2 separate regions of the Homo sapiens genome follow, and region 1 is linked to region 2. The links come from fine-mapping of genetic effects on gene expression. Tissue or cell type: whole blood. Region 2 holds a variant in brackets; the other region holds the start of a gene. All regions are shown on one strand. Distances are from middle to middle.

Region 1 (8,151 bases), 100 kb after region 2:
AAATTTACCTGTGGCACATCAAAATATTGTATTAGTTCTGCTCAAAAAGACTGTTCAAGCAAGACTGCTAACAAATGAAGTATTAAAAATTAGTGTAAAAAATCTGCCATTACAACTTTATGCGTAGTTACATTACAACTTTACAGTTAATACACCATATTTATCTGAACACTTTCCATGCACACAAAAGAAAACACATTTGAGAAAACATACTTTAACAAATCATGAATCCAAAACATGTCAGTGAAACAGACTGGCGTGTGTGACTTATTCCTCTTGAAGTCTAGCACGTGCTACATGCATCTTCATAGTAATAGATTTACCAACAATTCATTATAAAACAGTATATTTTACAATACACCCTTCCCCCATCAAAACCATTATAAAACAATTTCCTTAATGAATTCCTTAATACATTCTATTTGGGTACTAAAATCACAAAAGCAAGCACCAGGATGTGACAATCAGAAACAGTCTCCTGAGCAGTAACCTGAGACACTGATTGTCATGGCAGGCACAACCTGTCACCAAAATCATAGAACTGACTACTTGGTTTTGCAACAGATGTTCAGATGAAAAGGTTTAGGGAAGAAAAGCAGGTGTGGTAAGTTATCTGCCTCAGGAATTCTGGTTCTTCCAACTTCTTTATGGCACTGCCTGTTTAGAACATGAATTATAAAAGAACTTATGTGGCTTTAGTCTGTTTTTCTAAACCTCATATGAGCTAGTGACAACTCTTAACCACGTGCCCCCGAGAGCCATGAGGGGTCCTGGAGGCCTGCACAAATAAAGCAAATTAATAATCCTGATGTTTATAAAACACCAGAAAATAGACATTATCATCTTCACTTTGCAAATGAGGAAACTACAGGTTAGAGAAGGTATGTGATTTGCCTATATTCACAGGGCTACTAAATAGCCACAGAACAGACTGGACGCCAGTGCTCTCAAGATCAGGTACCAAGCTCTCTCTCTAAAATAAGTGACAACCAGGAGAACCACGACCAAGTGGTAAGATCTGGAGGTAGTGTGTCTACCCGTTAGACCATTTTCTCCTTTAGGAGAATGACAAATTGCTCCTGAGCTAACTGTAACAAATAATTTTTTTTAAAGTATCCTGTATTAGTGTCAACAGGTGTTAATTCACTCTTAATGAGGATTAGACTAATGAAAGATTACAAAAAATATAACCAGTAAAAACTATCTTTCTCAAGACTATGTGTTGATAGATGTTAATGCTGGGTGATGTGTACATAGGGATTTATTATTCTCTTTATTTCCATATATTTAAATATTTCCATGGTTTAATAAAAACTTTCCTTCTGAATACTCAGTTTCTCACAAGACTGTCATATTAATTTTAAAAACATATGTCCAAATTAATGTGAAAAAGGAAAGTTAATTTCTTTCCAGACATATCACCTAGATCAGGTCTACACAAAAAGCAAGATCTCATCTTTCAACTTTGATAATGTAAGGTGAGTAAAATTGTAAGTGTCCAATATCAAATTTGGCAATAACATTCTTAGACAAATAAGCAATCTGATTTATTAGTAGAAGCAACCAAACCTTGCAATCACATCATCTGCTAACAGTTTTGATTTCTGGAACTGTGACTAGACTTCAAGATAATACGTTTCAAGCCAAAGTTTGGGCTAGAGAAGATTTATTAATCTGTATTAAAAATTTACCTAGCTGACAAAAAATAATCAGATGGCTAAAAGTTTTATCGACTTATCACGCAATAACAAGCCCCCTCCTTCCTCTAAATCCTAACAACCCTCTTATCTATACAACATTTCTTCAAAATCTCTACTTCTAAAAAATAATAATTTGCAACAAGACAAAGCAATTATCTTCTGTGGGCATCTGCATATTGTCACAATAGCTAGTTAATTAATACTGGTCAATTAAAAACACACACCAGGCTGGGCACAGTGGCTCACGCCTGTAATCACAGCACTTTGTGAGACTGAGGTGGGCTCGGCCGGATCACGAGGTCAGGAGATCGAGATCATCCTGGCTAACACAGTGAAACCCCATCTCTACTAAAAATACAAAAAATTCCCCTGGCATGGTGGTGGGTGCCTGTAGTCCCAGCTAGTCGGGAGGCTGAGGCAGGAGAATGGCGTGAACCCAGGAGGCGGAGCTTGCAGTGAGCCGAGATCACGCCACTGCACTCCAGCCGGGGCGAGAGAGCAAGACTCCATCTCAAAAAAGAAAAAAAAGAAAAAAAACCACACACCTGCTCCTGAAACATTTTTAACAGTGAAAAGTGTGGTGTGGCAAGCTTCCTCCATCACATCTACACATACATATATACACACATACATACACATGCTGACACACATCTATTGTAGAAATGCTTGTATTTAAGTGAGCTGAACTGTTATTCAAACGGCTACAAGGCAAATTTAGAATACTCATTAAAATATTATCAGGTTCCCATCATTCACAAATATCTAAGAGACATACTATAATATGCCAAATTCACATGTATACCTATGTAACAAACCTGCACGTTGTGCACATGTACCCTAGAACTTAAATTTAAAAAAAAAATGCCAAATTAATGTGCCCATGACACCGCTAAAGATTACGGAAGAAGCTTTTTCAGAGAGCACATCTAAAAAAATTCAGCCATGTCTCAGATTTATATATTCTCCTAACTCTTAATAAAAAAAATTTTCCCAACTCTTAGATTGCCTTTTAAACCACTCAATCCCTTGTAAGATTGAGCAGTTCACCTCTGATTATTCTGAAAAAGGCATTTTTTTCCCTAAAAAAGCAAGTCTCACTAACTGCAGAATGCACTATTTAAAAAACACCAATTTTTACTTTTCTGAACAGATCAACTAACTTTGGAGGGGGCCTTCTAAGGTAACAGGTCTAAACTGGACTCTTTTAGGCAGCCTCTAGAAATATCATACACTGGTTGCACAAACCTCAGGAAATGGGATTTCAATTCAACATGAGGAGCTTTTAAATCTCAGCGCTTTCCAACAATGGAATAGCTACCTCCAGAGTAGTGAGTTTCCCATTACCACGAACAGTCAAGGACAGTTGGACACAGAGGCAGAATGTGATAAATGAAAATACTTTGGAGGTTGGCCAGATGTTTTACTGATTCAGCCACTTCCTATGTGATTATGGGCATGTCCAACTAACTTTTAAGCTTCAGTTTTATCATCTGTAAAATGGAAGCCATCATCCAACTTGAAGGGTGAAACTCAGAAATATAGCAGGGACATGCTTAGCACAGTGTACAGTCTAGCGGGTAAAAACTCAAATGGTACTTTTTGTTAGTTTTACTACTATGAACACCTGGCAGTAAAGATTTCTGTGACACTAAGGGTGGAATGGACATGACCACTAACATCTCTTTTGACCCTATCATCTTATCACTAAGTTTCTCTTCAAAATACCTGGAAGAAAAACTCAAGGGCTCAAACTTACTAGGGGTTTAATTTTATAAAGAAGAGCACCTGTTTATTGGAGGCTCTAGTTTCCCAGTAGGTGCCTTATTCTACCCACATTCCCTGCTGTTTGGCCCCCTTACCCTACGTCCCTACCCCAGAGTTAACATTCAACTTGCCCTCTTGCCTTCAGTATCAATAATCACAAAGTGGGTCATGCAACAAAAAGACTCCTAAATTGGAAAATGAGAGCCTGGGTTTGGTCTCAGGTTCTGCCATTAACTCCCTATGTTACCTAGGCAACTCACATATTTATATTGGTTTTAAAGAAAAAGTACCACTGGTAAACATTATCTCATTTCATCTTCATAACCTCATGGAAGGTATCAGTAATGCCGCCCTTAACTAACATTAATGAGGAAATTTACGGCTCAAGAAGTGGAGTGGCCTTCCCAGAATGGCACAGGAAGTAGCAGGCTCAATATTTTGCCCAGTACCCATTCTCCCAAAACCTATACTCAGAGGTATTAGAGACAGGACCTTCTGGAAAACAGTGTAAATGTGTTTTCCCCTCCTCCTCTATCAGAACCTGGCCTAGTCAAGAGTGAAAGCAACATAATTGTTAGTGGTAGAGGGAAGGAGGCTTCATTTCCCCCTTTTCTTATCAAACAAAGAGCACAGAGGCGCTGAAAATGTATACACACCTATAAACTTACATATGCATAAAATGTATTCTGAATATTCAAGAAACTGATAACCCTGGTTGCCTCCAGAGAGAACTGGAGAGCTGCAGAATAGGAATGAGGGGTCCCTTTTTATTGTATACCTTTTAAAACTGAAAACCATGTTAAGTATAATATACTATCAAAAAATAGCCTTTAGTTTTAAGGTGAATTTTTTTAAAGCTTTGAAAGAATACAAATAATGTTTATAAAATATGTGTTCTGCAACTCCACTTGTTGCTGGGTGACCTTGGGCAAATCACTTCACCTGTCTCATGCCCTGTTTCCTCACTTGTAAAATACAGCCAAGAGCATTACCTACAAGGGTTTTTATGAGGGTTAAACAAGACAGTGCAAGTAAAGCGTTTAGCACAGTACTCGGCACGCTGTAAGCCTACAGTAAATGTCAGTTACCATTATTACTTAGCATTAATATTGTTATCTTTGCTTTACTTCAAGCAGCACCCCACATACACACCTGTTTTCATGGCATACCCACAATTATGGCGCAGTATAGCGCTTTGTACTTCATAAACCACCTCATCACACTTCATCGTCTTTCAAACGTTTGGTAGCCCTGGGACATCACTGTTAACTCATTTCGCAGCTAAGGAAATGGAGGCAGTAGGAGGCAGTAACTCCAAAACCCTGTTTTCCCGTCTCTAAAATCCAGATCCCATCAACCCATTCGTTGCTCCCAGGTCCCTTGCTCTCGGAATCGTGTTCCGCGCGGCACTGACCTGAGCGAGCGCCCCGGGGCCCGGGACCTCGCGCCGGGTTCACAGCTACTAGGCACGCTCGGACCGCCAGAGCCTTGCAGCGGCCGGGTCCGCTCCGCAGCCATGGCGCCTGCAGGGAAAGAAAAACAGCCAAGGCGCGGCGGGTCAGCAGAGCCGCGGGCGCCTAAGAGTCCCCTCCCCGACCGGCCCCGCCTCGCATACAGACCCGGACCTGCGGCCGCTGCTCCCGGTCCGCAGCCTCACAGGGGAGCGGCTTCCGGTGCTGCCTGCGTCATCTCCGCGCGTCCCTCAGCTCCGCGGCTCCCGGCGGAAGCGGCTGCACTTCCGGTCCCCGCCCGGAGGTGGGTGGTGGGAGGCTGGAGGCCGGGAGTAGGGGTGGGGAGAAGAGCGTCCCGGGAAGCTGAACGCGTGCCGCGCGGCCCTCACGGTGCTTAGGCTGGGTGCAACCTAGAACGGAGGTTCCTTTCGTACCGTACATCCAGGTTTGCACAGCGCGCTTATGTCCCTCCTCCAATCTGATCTTGCACCAGCTCTGCAGTAGTTTTTCTTATTATCCTCATTTTACGGAGGAGAGGGAGCTGTGGCTTAGAGAAGTTAAGAGACGTGTCCAAATTCATACAACCTGTTGGGCACCTCTTTATCCCGAACGCTGTTCTAGGGGATAGGGTTAGTGAACAAAAAACGCAAAAGCCCCTGACCGCCTGGGCCTTACATCTATTAGGAGGAGGAAGACAGATAAACTAAGGCTCGTGCAAAGGAGAAAAATAAAGCAAGGTAAGGAGGTTGTTGAATGAAAAGAGACAGTCAAGTGATGTAGATTTGAATGAATCACAACGTTTACACTCTGGCTGTGGCCCGGTTACTTAACCTCTCAGACTTTGCTTCATCTGCATAGCAATTATAGTGAGGTCCCCATCCGAAGGCTCTGAGGATTGAAGGAAATGAAGCATGCAAACCTTTTGGCGTCAAGAACTAAAACTGAGCTAAAAAATCCCACGCACTCTTTCTCAACATTTTTTGTGTACCATCTCACTCAGTTCCCACAACAACCCCACAAGCTAGTAACTATTATTAGGCCCCTTTTTAGAGATGGGGAAACTGAAATCAAAAGAGGTTTAGGCATCTTGCCTAAGGTCATAGTAAATGGCTGTCATAGGATTTCAACCCAAACCGACTTCAGAGCACAAGTTATCCTTTTTTTTTTTTTGAGGCAACGTATCACTCTGTCGCCCAGGCTGGAGTACAGTGACACGATCTTGGCTCACTGCAGCCTCGACTTCTCCAGGCTCAAGCGATCCTCCCACCTCAGCCTCCTGAGTAGAAGGGACCACAGGCGCGTGTCACCATGCCCAGCTAGTTGTGTGTGTGTGTGTGTGTGTGTGTGTGTGTGTGTGTGTGTATTTTTGTAGAGTCAGGGTTTCGCTATGTTACCCAGGCTGGTCTTGAACTCCTAGGCTCAAGTGATCCACCTGCCTGGGCCTCCCAAAAAGTGCTGGGATTACAGGGGTGAACCACAATGCCCAGCGCACAAGTTATCCTTGTTTCTCTGTAAGGGTTCCTAAGCCATACATGCATACACGCACATTCACATACATCTTATACCAACACTGTCCAATAAGCTTTTTGCCAGTGATGGAGTTGTTCTGTTGGTGCTGTCCAATAAGGCAGTCACTAGTCTCTTGTGGCTACTGAACATTTGAAAAGTACCTGATGTAAATGAACTAAATTCTTAATTTTATTTAATTTTAATTTAATAGCCACATGAGGCTAATGGCTACCATGCTTGATAGCACAGTCCAATAATATAGACAATAAGAGAGACACATATCCAGTAGATGGTAGAGCATGGCCAAGGTTCCAAGCATCCTGACTTCATTTAGGGTACTTGAAACATGGGAAATAAAAATTGATTATGTGGGGTGGAAGTCAACTACGGTGTCCTAAAAGTAAGGTCTCAAGAGAGCAAATTTGATTTGCTAAGCAACAGGATGTCACTCTAGACTTCTAAGTCAGAACGTGACTGATCACAGCATTATAAGACATTTAGGAAGACAGATATACAGATTGGATACTCTCTATGAAAGGGAAGGCAGTACCAGGGTAATCAAGAAAATCAAGCACCCATATCTCTTTGGAGCAAACATTCTCAACCCCAGTACAGTTTGATGAATCAAATTGAAAAGTCCAGATGGAGCTGCCCCAGAGATAATATTGTTTGGACCTCTCATAACAAAGAAACCAAATTGTGCAAATTTAAGCCCAGAGGGGATCCAGGAGCAAAATTCATGACTATAAAAAAATTTTTAAATTGCAAAGTGGACGTAATATTTAATTAAATACAAGACCTATTGAATTGTTAAATTCAGAATATGTAAAAATTCCCTTTCATTTGATATTTTTAGGTTAGATTTTTCCCACTTTGTAAAGATTTTCAAGATTGTATGATGGTTGCTGAGAAAACATAGCCAACTTTAAATATAAGAAGTTATTCCTGGCCAAATAATTACAAAAGCTGTTGTAAATGGCAGATAGGAAGATCAACATGTTGGATGTTGAAGGAAAGGACGAAATATAGCCTGGCATGAGAAAAGAATGCTCAGTATAATTGCTTGTGTGACAGGAACATGAAAATATGCTGAATGTTGTTTCTTTTCTCGAAATAAACTTGCTGGTAGAAATGATGTTTGGGATAATTCCTACACATGCATACTCCAGGAAAGGAGAAAACATCAAATGTTTAGTTTCTTCAATTCCGGCTAAAGTGGACTGTATGTTGTCTTCCATTTTGAGCTAAACTTGCCTGGGGAGGTAGTTTAGATGACTTAAAATTGATTTAGTAAAGTGCTTGCATAGCCAATACTAGGGATTCTGAATCCTTCCCAATGAGCCATACACCAGACCTCACCATATGATGTTTCTTTGGGAGAAAATAATGCACCCACTAGGGATGAAAAATCTTCCTCTATGTCTAGTACAGTTTTTGCATGTGTATGTACCAGGGAGCAGGCATTACTCCAGCTGTTTGGTTTCTTGAGATGCACTCCAAAAAAAAGTATAGGATATATCTACTTGTGCAATGATGCTATGGAGAAGTGATCTGGGTAACTGTTCTTTGAACTTCCACACACACTTTACCAGGAACTCAGCATAAAGACATGGGGTCAGTTTCATGAAGTACACAGGGTTGGAAGCATTTGAAGAGGTTTGCTTTGTCTGTTCTTTGTTCTGGATTCACTCTAGCTGTAACATGATCAGCACCCACTCTCCTATGCA
Region 2 (8,202 bases):
AAAAAAATATCTAATTTTAAGGAGAGAATGGTTACACATAAAATTTATAGAATCATCTAAAAGAGGCTACTCCTAGAACAGCCAAATCTCTCATACATTCCTGGTTGAAATATAAACTTGTATAACCTCTTCAGAGAAGAATGTGCATATTCTAGAACCTAGCAGTGCCTTGCAACTCCAAATATGGTCTATGGATCTGCATTACCTGGGAACTTGTGAGAAATATAGATTCTCAGGCCCACCTGAGAACAACTGAATCAGGACCTGAATCAGAACCTGCAGTATCATAAGGTACTCAGGTGATTCCTATGCACATTAATTGAGACGTATTGCTCTAGAGAAACTCACCTACAAGTGAAGAAAACATGTGCAATGTTGTTCATTGCAGCATTACTTGAAAAAGCAAAAAATGTAGAATCAGCTCAAATGATTATCAATAAGAAAAATGAGATATTGTGGACTATTCATACAGTAGGAAACTATACAGCAAACTTGATAAAGCAGAATTACATGGAACAATATAGAAAAATCTCAATAAAATGGTGAGTTTAAAAAAAGCATGGTAAGAGTTCATTATACAAAATTTGAAACATGAACACAACACTGTGTGTGTGTGTGTGTGTGTGTGTGTGTGTGTGTGTGTAAACATTTTTAAATGCATGGCACCAAATTCAGGATAGTGGTTACATCTGGGTAGGGAAGAAAGAAAAAGAGATAAAAAAAAAAAAAAAGAACACCAGGAGGCTATGATCATATTTAATATTTTATCTCAAAAATGAAAACAATCCAAAGCAAATACAGGAGAAAATTCAGATATTACAAAGCTGGGAGGCAGGTATACAGGGGATGTTCACTATATTACTTTTTATACTTTTCAGAAAACTTATTTCATATTTTTTAAAATGAAGAATAAGTTTCTCCCCATTGGTTAGCATTTCTCATAAACAAATATCATCGTACTCAAACTTGTACTATAGAAATAATCATCTATTTGTCCTATCTAGGTTTTAAAAGAACAAGTTTTGCATCTGACTTATCTCTGAATGCATCATCTCCTCTCCGCAACACACACACACACACACACACACACACACACACACACACGCACGCACACACAACTTCTCTTAGGGCTTCAGAGATCAAGTTAGGAGATTTGAAGGTCAGATTCAAGTGAAGATATGGTTACCTGGGCCAATCAACATGGAAAAACAGAATCTCTGCCTGGGGTAGCCAAGATTATGGACCCAAATAGGACTAACTGTAAAGTCTGCAAAATAAGGAAGGAAAAGAAACAGTAGTGCTAACAGCAGGGCTGTATCAGGTGCACCAAAATCAAGTGAAAAAGAAAAAGACATACATCCAAGGGCATGAATATATTCATTCATTCAGCAAATATATATTGCCTCATATATACCTGCTAAACATTATTTCAGATGCTAGGGATGTGGCAGTAAACAAAACAGGCCAAAATTAACGCCCTCATGGACCTTACATCTTAGAAATGGACACACAATTAGTTACTTAAATAGGTTAAGTATTTAGTATGTTAGAAGGTAGTTAAATCCTAAGGAGGAAAAACAGCAGGAAAGGGAGACAGGGGAGATGGAGGTGGAGAGTAACTACATGTGTGTTGTGGGAGTGCAATTTTAGATAGGATGGACATAGGAAGCGTATGGTAAGTATATGCAGGAGTTTTTCATTTTACATGTTCTTTACACGTGCTTCTGGGCAAGGTAGAGAGGTTTAAAAGGTTCAAAGCAATGTTCTGTTGATAATTGAATTAGTATGAATAGAAGATAGAAAAATATGCAGAGCACAAAACCAGAGAACTGTAATTCTTCTCTGAGGTTTCTAGAGAAAAGATTCCTGGCAAAGCACATTAATCACTGGTTCAATCATCAACAAACTAGTGTTGTGCCAGAAATACAGACTACAATTTCTAGGTGCTGGAGATACAACAATGAGAAAGACAGACGTGGTCATTGTTCTTATACAGCTTAATGTCTTATAGCAGAGAGAAAAACAAAGAAGCAATATCGTGTGATAAGTATTGAAACAGAAATATGAATAGAACATTATGGTACATGTGTTTGCACATGGAGAACCACCTAATTCAGACTTTCTAGAGGAAGAAATATCTAAGCATGGACGTGAAGAATGAGGAGGTATAGCTAAGCTAAGGGTAGAGGAGAGGAGTATCCCCAAGGCAAGGAGCAGCATGTGTAACAACATCAAGGCAAAAGAGAGCATAGTACTATAGAGAACTGGAAAAAGTGCATTGTGGCTGGGACACAGAATGGGGTAAGAAGTGGTGACAGGTGAAGGACTTTCCTAAGAGCAACTGGATAGCCATGGAAGAATTTTATACAAGAGAGGAAGAATAATCAGATCTACATCTTAGAAACATAATTCTGGCTACAGTGTGAAAATGGACCAGGGAAAGAATGAATGCAAAGAGACTTTTTAGCAGCCTGCTAAAAAAAATCCAATTGAGAGATGAAGATAGCCAGAAAAATAAATGCCAAGAGCATGTGCATGTTATTATGACCACAGGATATTTATCATTACCTGTGCACCAGATGGTAGGCTCATATCCTAAAAACCTAGTTTTTCCCCTATTGTAGTAAAAATGAATCATGTGTGCCAATGAATTATCATTGTCTCTTACTCAGAAGGTAGGAAAATTGTATAAAAATCAAAGACCCTAATAAATTGGGCCCATAAAAATGTTGCCAGAGTTGTGCTTTATAACCACCTAAAGTCATTATGCTCTTCTCTAAGACAGCACCTTTACTTGCACATTATGTCAATACCTGATAACAATTTTCATCCTCTCCCTTCCCATAACAATTTTTCTACCCGTTTTAACAGCTTCTGAGACTCTAAGATTCATGACTGGCTGTGTAAGAGGCAAGTACTTGCTTTTCAGCTGAATAAACAAAGACAGACAATGAGGGTAATGTGGCAAATGGGTCTGCCCACTCAGATATTTTCCAAAGAAGGAGTTCACGCTGGGCTCCCTCAGTTGGAAAGCCCAGGGGAATAAACATTCCAGATATATAACTAAACTAATATCAAAGTCATACTTCATCAAGCACTATTACTTCTGCTGCTGAGGGAATGGCATACAAAACTTTGGGGAAATTACGAGGTCCAAGGACATAAAAATTAAAGAATGGGAATAAAGAAGGTAAGTACACTGGGGTATTTTGTTGACAAAACCAAACCTGACATATTAAAACAACTTTACTCACCCAGAGACCAAGAAAGCAATGAACTTTCATCAATGCCCTGGAGTCAGTGTGTGTGTGTGTATATATTAAAGGATATGTGGCTATAGTCAAAGATGGCAACATTCAAAATGAAAACTATTTGTATTTTAGGGTATACTCTAAAAGACTAATGTTTTGTATCAATGATACATCAGATGTAGAATGTTTGGCAATGCTTGGGGCAGCTTCTCTATCCTTTTTATTTATTTCATTCAAAATGAGCAGTACATTCCTAACCAGGTCTGCTCAGACACCCAGGGTGCTACTGAATGGTAGTACAGACTCTTCAGTGACCAAGCAACCAATATCCTGGAATTTGAAAAGAACTTTTTATAATGAAAAGTTCCACTATCAATAGACCATTTGCCTGAGTTGTTTTCATAGTTGCAACTGACCCTCTGCTGGAGACCAAAATTTCCTCTGTATTATCCCTAAAGTCACTCCACTAGCTAAAAATTAGGATAGGACAGAGGAGGAGGGAAGTACTTTAAATTCTAACATAACAAAAGAAGAAATTAGGTAATCAAAATAAAAATGCCCTTGTTATAAAAATAATGTTGGCCACAGACATTTAAAAAGAAATATAAATATTTTATTGAACTCAATAAATATGTATGGAATGAGCATGGTTCCAATGACACATTTTAGCACAAGTTGTTTGCAGTTAATATGACCATTGATAAGCATTTCTTTGAGTCATAGTTTCTTCACATGTAGAAACTGGGTAATAATCTGTATCCTACCCTATCCAAACAATTCCAGGAGTATTTATGTTGCCAGTTTTCATCCTCAGTTGAGTTACTAGGTATTTAACAATGCCAGAAATAACAACAAAAAAAGCCACCATTTTTCATTACTTGTCTCAAAAAATGATCAATCAATCAATCAAGTCTCTAGATTTAGCTCTAGCAACATAAATGGATAGGGGTGTGGATGAGGCAGGACTGGCCATGGAGTGATAGTTGGTTGTGCAGGTGGGTGAGAGATATGAGAAAGGTCATAACCCTACTCTGTTAATTTTGGTATATATTCAAAATTTTCCACAATACAAAAGTTTTTAAGTATCTTTACGTTACTCTCACAGGCATATTTTCCTAGATACTTTTGGGGCATCTTTGCCACAGGCCACTGATGCCCTGAACAAGAAGTCAGATTTCAAATATGCACACTAGGCAAAAGCTCTTCACCAAGATTAACTTCAATAAAGTTGGATAGTTTAAACGCATTTTATCAAAATTTCCTGAATGTTTGGAAAGTAGATGAATTGCTATTCCAATGACAATTTTAAGTAACATCAATTGAATTCTTTCCCTGTGCTTTCACTGTTTTAAGTGCTTTACCAACATCATCTCATAATTCTATGATGTAGGCTGACAGACAGGGAGTAAGTGATGGAGCTGGGATTGGAATCCAGACAATCTGACTTCAGAGCCTGCACTTTTAACCAACAATGACTGGATACTTCAAGGCTGAACATTACCGGTTTGGGTAGCATTAGAAAGAATTAAGAAAAGAGAGGAAGAAAACTACTTCAGGCTCAAAAGTACATATGCATTGCCTTGTCAAGAGAAGCAGTATAATATGGTACGGAATAAATTGAGTTAGGTACTTCGAATACTGAATTGTGGCTATGTACCACTCATTATTACATGATCTTGAGTAAGTTAAATACTTCTTATCTTCGGTTTCCTCATCCATATTTAAGTTTAAGGTAAGGACTGAAAGTGAAAATGTACATTAAGGAATCTAATACATAA[G/C]TATTCTAGAGCACTTGCATTTGTGTATGAATCTGTCTCTCCACTAGATTGTGAATGCCTAAGTCATTCACCATTCTCTCTTCAGTTCCTAGCACACTGCCTGGCATACAGAAGGCACTTGTGTTTGTTTAACCTAACATCAGATCCATCAAGAGGTCCAGCACCAATTGGTAGCTTTGTCAAGTCTCTAATTTTAATTATCTAAGTCTATGTGTTATACCAACAAGTAAAATAGGTTTCAAATGTTTGCTTAATAACAGAAGACAGGAAACTAATTCATAAACCCTCTATTATTATGTTATCTAGCATTTAATCCAAAATTAATGATGGAAAAGATTTAAAGAGACAGTAAGTGCCCTCTAATTATCTTCTCTGATGATCATTTACACTTATAGAAGTATGTTGCAGTTTCTAGACTGATCTTTCCAAACACAAATCTCACCATGTCACTTCCTGGCTTATACTTCTTCATGGCTCTTAGAATCAATTTCTGAGCATGACATGGAAAGCACATCATGATTTGACAACTTTGGACCATCCCAGCCACAAATCTCTTCATTCCCTGTTCCACCTTCATGTACCTTTTCCTCCCCTACTCGAGCCACTCAGGACTTCAGTTCCCTAAATGGGCCATGTATGTGCTCTCTTACTTCTGTACTTTTTCAACAGGCTGCTGCTCCCTTTTCCTAGAGTGTCCTTCCCCTCTTCTACCTGAATAATTCCTATTTGTTCTCAAGACTCCACTGAGAGAAAACATCCCACAGAAAGCCTTTCCTGACATTGTCCTTCATCCCCTAAAAGTCTGGGTAAGGAGTCCTCTCTTTGCTTCTGTAGTACATACCACTATGATAGAACTTACCATTCTGTAGTCTAATTTTCCATATCCTTCGCTATGTTCTCAATGACAGAAACCAGGTCTTATTTGTCTTTCCAGTATCTATCTAGCCCAGCTAGGTGCACAGTGGGTGATTAACAAAGATCTGATGAATGTAAAAGAACCTTATTTTGTATAACAGAAAGCCCAGTGTAAACTTATTGACAAAAGCACACCCTTTTCTTTGTTACTTAAATAAAAGTGAATGTAAAGTCAAACAGAAGCATCTTAGTGAAGCACTGTTAAAGACCAATTTGAGCATGGCAAGAAAAAATAAAGAGGATTTGAAATTTTGTCTGGTTAACCAAAAAAAAAAAAAAAAAAAGAAGAAGAAGAAGAAGAAGAAAAAGGAAAAAGAGGATGATACCATTGCAGATTGGTTAAGCAATAAGGAAACAGAAAGCAACAGCATCCTGCTGCTTGTGGCTTTAGTCCCTGAAGACCATTTAATCACAGATTTTAAGTGTGTGTATTTCTAAATGAGTGCTCTATTACACAAGATCATCAACTAAAAGAAGTATAGCAAAGAGAAATGCTTACATTCTGATAAACTGTTAAAAGGCTTGCTATTAACAAGAAAGACCATATGCTAAGAAAAATAATTCTCTAAAACAGCAAGTTTAAGTAAACATTTTTGTTGGCAATAAATGTCTGGAATCCATTTGGAATTTTTCAGTATTATTCACAAGTTAAAAATAATTGATACATATAAAAGTACATTACTAGGTTGCAAAGCATTTGTAGCAACTCAATACCATTATTTGCTATTGTCTCTATTTCTGACCAACTTGTGTTTCATGTTTTACACTGGCTAAAATGACTGTTAGTTTGGGGATGTAGGCTATTAGCCCTTAAATGTCATCCTGGCTAATGTATAACTTTACTCATCTGACTCATAACAGACATCCAAGTCTTCTCCTCTGGAAACCAATCCACTGTACAAATCAATTAGGCTAAAAAAAAAAAAATAAAGGTAAAAGTAAAATGGACAGAGCAGTATGTGAGGATGTACTTTTTCTTTTGGGTAAAATGCATACTTTCTACTCCAAAGAATCAGGAGAAAAACTGAAGAGAGTAGTAAACAGATATATGATATGGACAGTAAAATAATGACTACAAATCAGAAAAGAGAAGCAAAGGTGGCAGGGGCAAAAGATGCATTACAACTAACAGTGGTTAGAAGGATATAATAGAACACATTAAACTCAACCTACATTTAGCATGTCATTTTGCCATCCTAGAAAGAGCTTAAGAAATAAGATAGATCTGGGTTTGAATCCCAGCTAACTAGCACTTGGCTGTGACCTTTGGGCAAACAACTTAACCTCATCTTAGATTCAGGTTCTTTATTTGTAAAGTTGGGTAACACTGCTTATCAACAGAATTGAGAGGATTAGAGGTAATGAAGAATTTAAAAGGATTGGAAGCAGTGAAGTAAAAAGTCCGAAGGACTAAGTTTTCAATATGCAATAAAAAGTACAGCTAATATTTAGAAGGCCAATTTATGCCAGGAATTCTAAGTGTTTTACATTTATACGAATCATTTCATAATTATGGGCCTCCACTTCTTCATTTCTTCAAAGTGAGATTCTACTGCCCTAGGTTATTCTACTTTTTTAAACATAAGTACAAGACAGTTTGCCCAACAGCCTTTTCTTCCCAGAGTAGATGCAATCTCATGATACAGCTGGTTATACACAAAAGGAGGCCAAAAAGAAAGTTTCATGTTTAGCAGGTATGGTAGGTACTTCAGGCAATTTTTGTGGCTAGTGACTATCATGGTAGGTCTAGGAAAAAATTTCAAATTGCCCTTTTCTGGTTATGTTTCTAGATAGGAAGAAGAGGTAACCAAAGATGAATAAGGCAGTTTCTGTCCTCACTGTTTGTGGTCTAGTTGTATATTATAATATGGTGCTTTGAATTTCCCATTCACATTCAAAGGCCTTTTTGACAGCATCACTCCCAGAGATAATTTACTATTTAGGGGTATTCACTTATTTAACAAATATTTACCACAGACCTACCACATGCTAGGAATTAATCTAGGTGCTGGCCATATAGTGGTTTAAAAAAAAAAAAAAAGAGAGAGAGAGAGAGACAAAGACAAAAACCCCTGCCTCTTATGGACCTTACATTCTAGTGCTGGTGGTGAATAGGGACAATTTATGCACCAATGCTGTTCAATGATTTATTTAGTATTTACTACATGCTGAACACTATCCTATGTACATGTTAGGGAGTGCCAACATCAATAAGACACAGCCTATAGGCTACTTGAGAAAAGGTAAAGAGGAGTCAG

Evidence for each region. PIP is the estimated chance that this variant, and not a neighbour inherited with it, causes the effect.
Region 1: FBXW2 starts here. The variant in region 2 is fine-mapped to the expression of FBXW2 in whole blood (TOPMed, PIP 0.93).

What each region holds. Positions count from the first base shown.
Region 1 is chr9:120,788,271-120,796,421 of GRCh38, forward strand. FBXW2 (F-box and WD repeat domain containing 2) reads right to left here and starts at 5,146. Exons shown (of 8, transcript NM_012164.4): 1 at 5,084-5,146; 2 at 4,879-4,987; 3 at 1-8. B3GALT9 (beta-1,3-galactosyltransferase 9) reads left to right here and starts at 5,197. Exons shown (of 3, transcript NM_001386823.1): 1 at 5,197-5,652. RefSeq lists enhancers at 4,847-5,477, 5,540-5,639, 6,070-6,159.
Region 2 is chr9:120,687,067-120,695,268 of GRCh38, forward strand. The region is part of intron 1 of MEGF9 (multiple EGF like domains 9); the gene reads right to left. Among named protein-coding and RNA genes, the nearest start is that of MEGF9, 23 kb to the right of the region's middle. RefSeq lists an enhancer at 5,673-6,483. The variant G/C (reference allele first, on the strand shown) is at 5,030.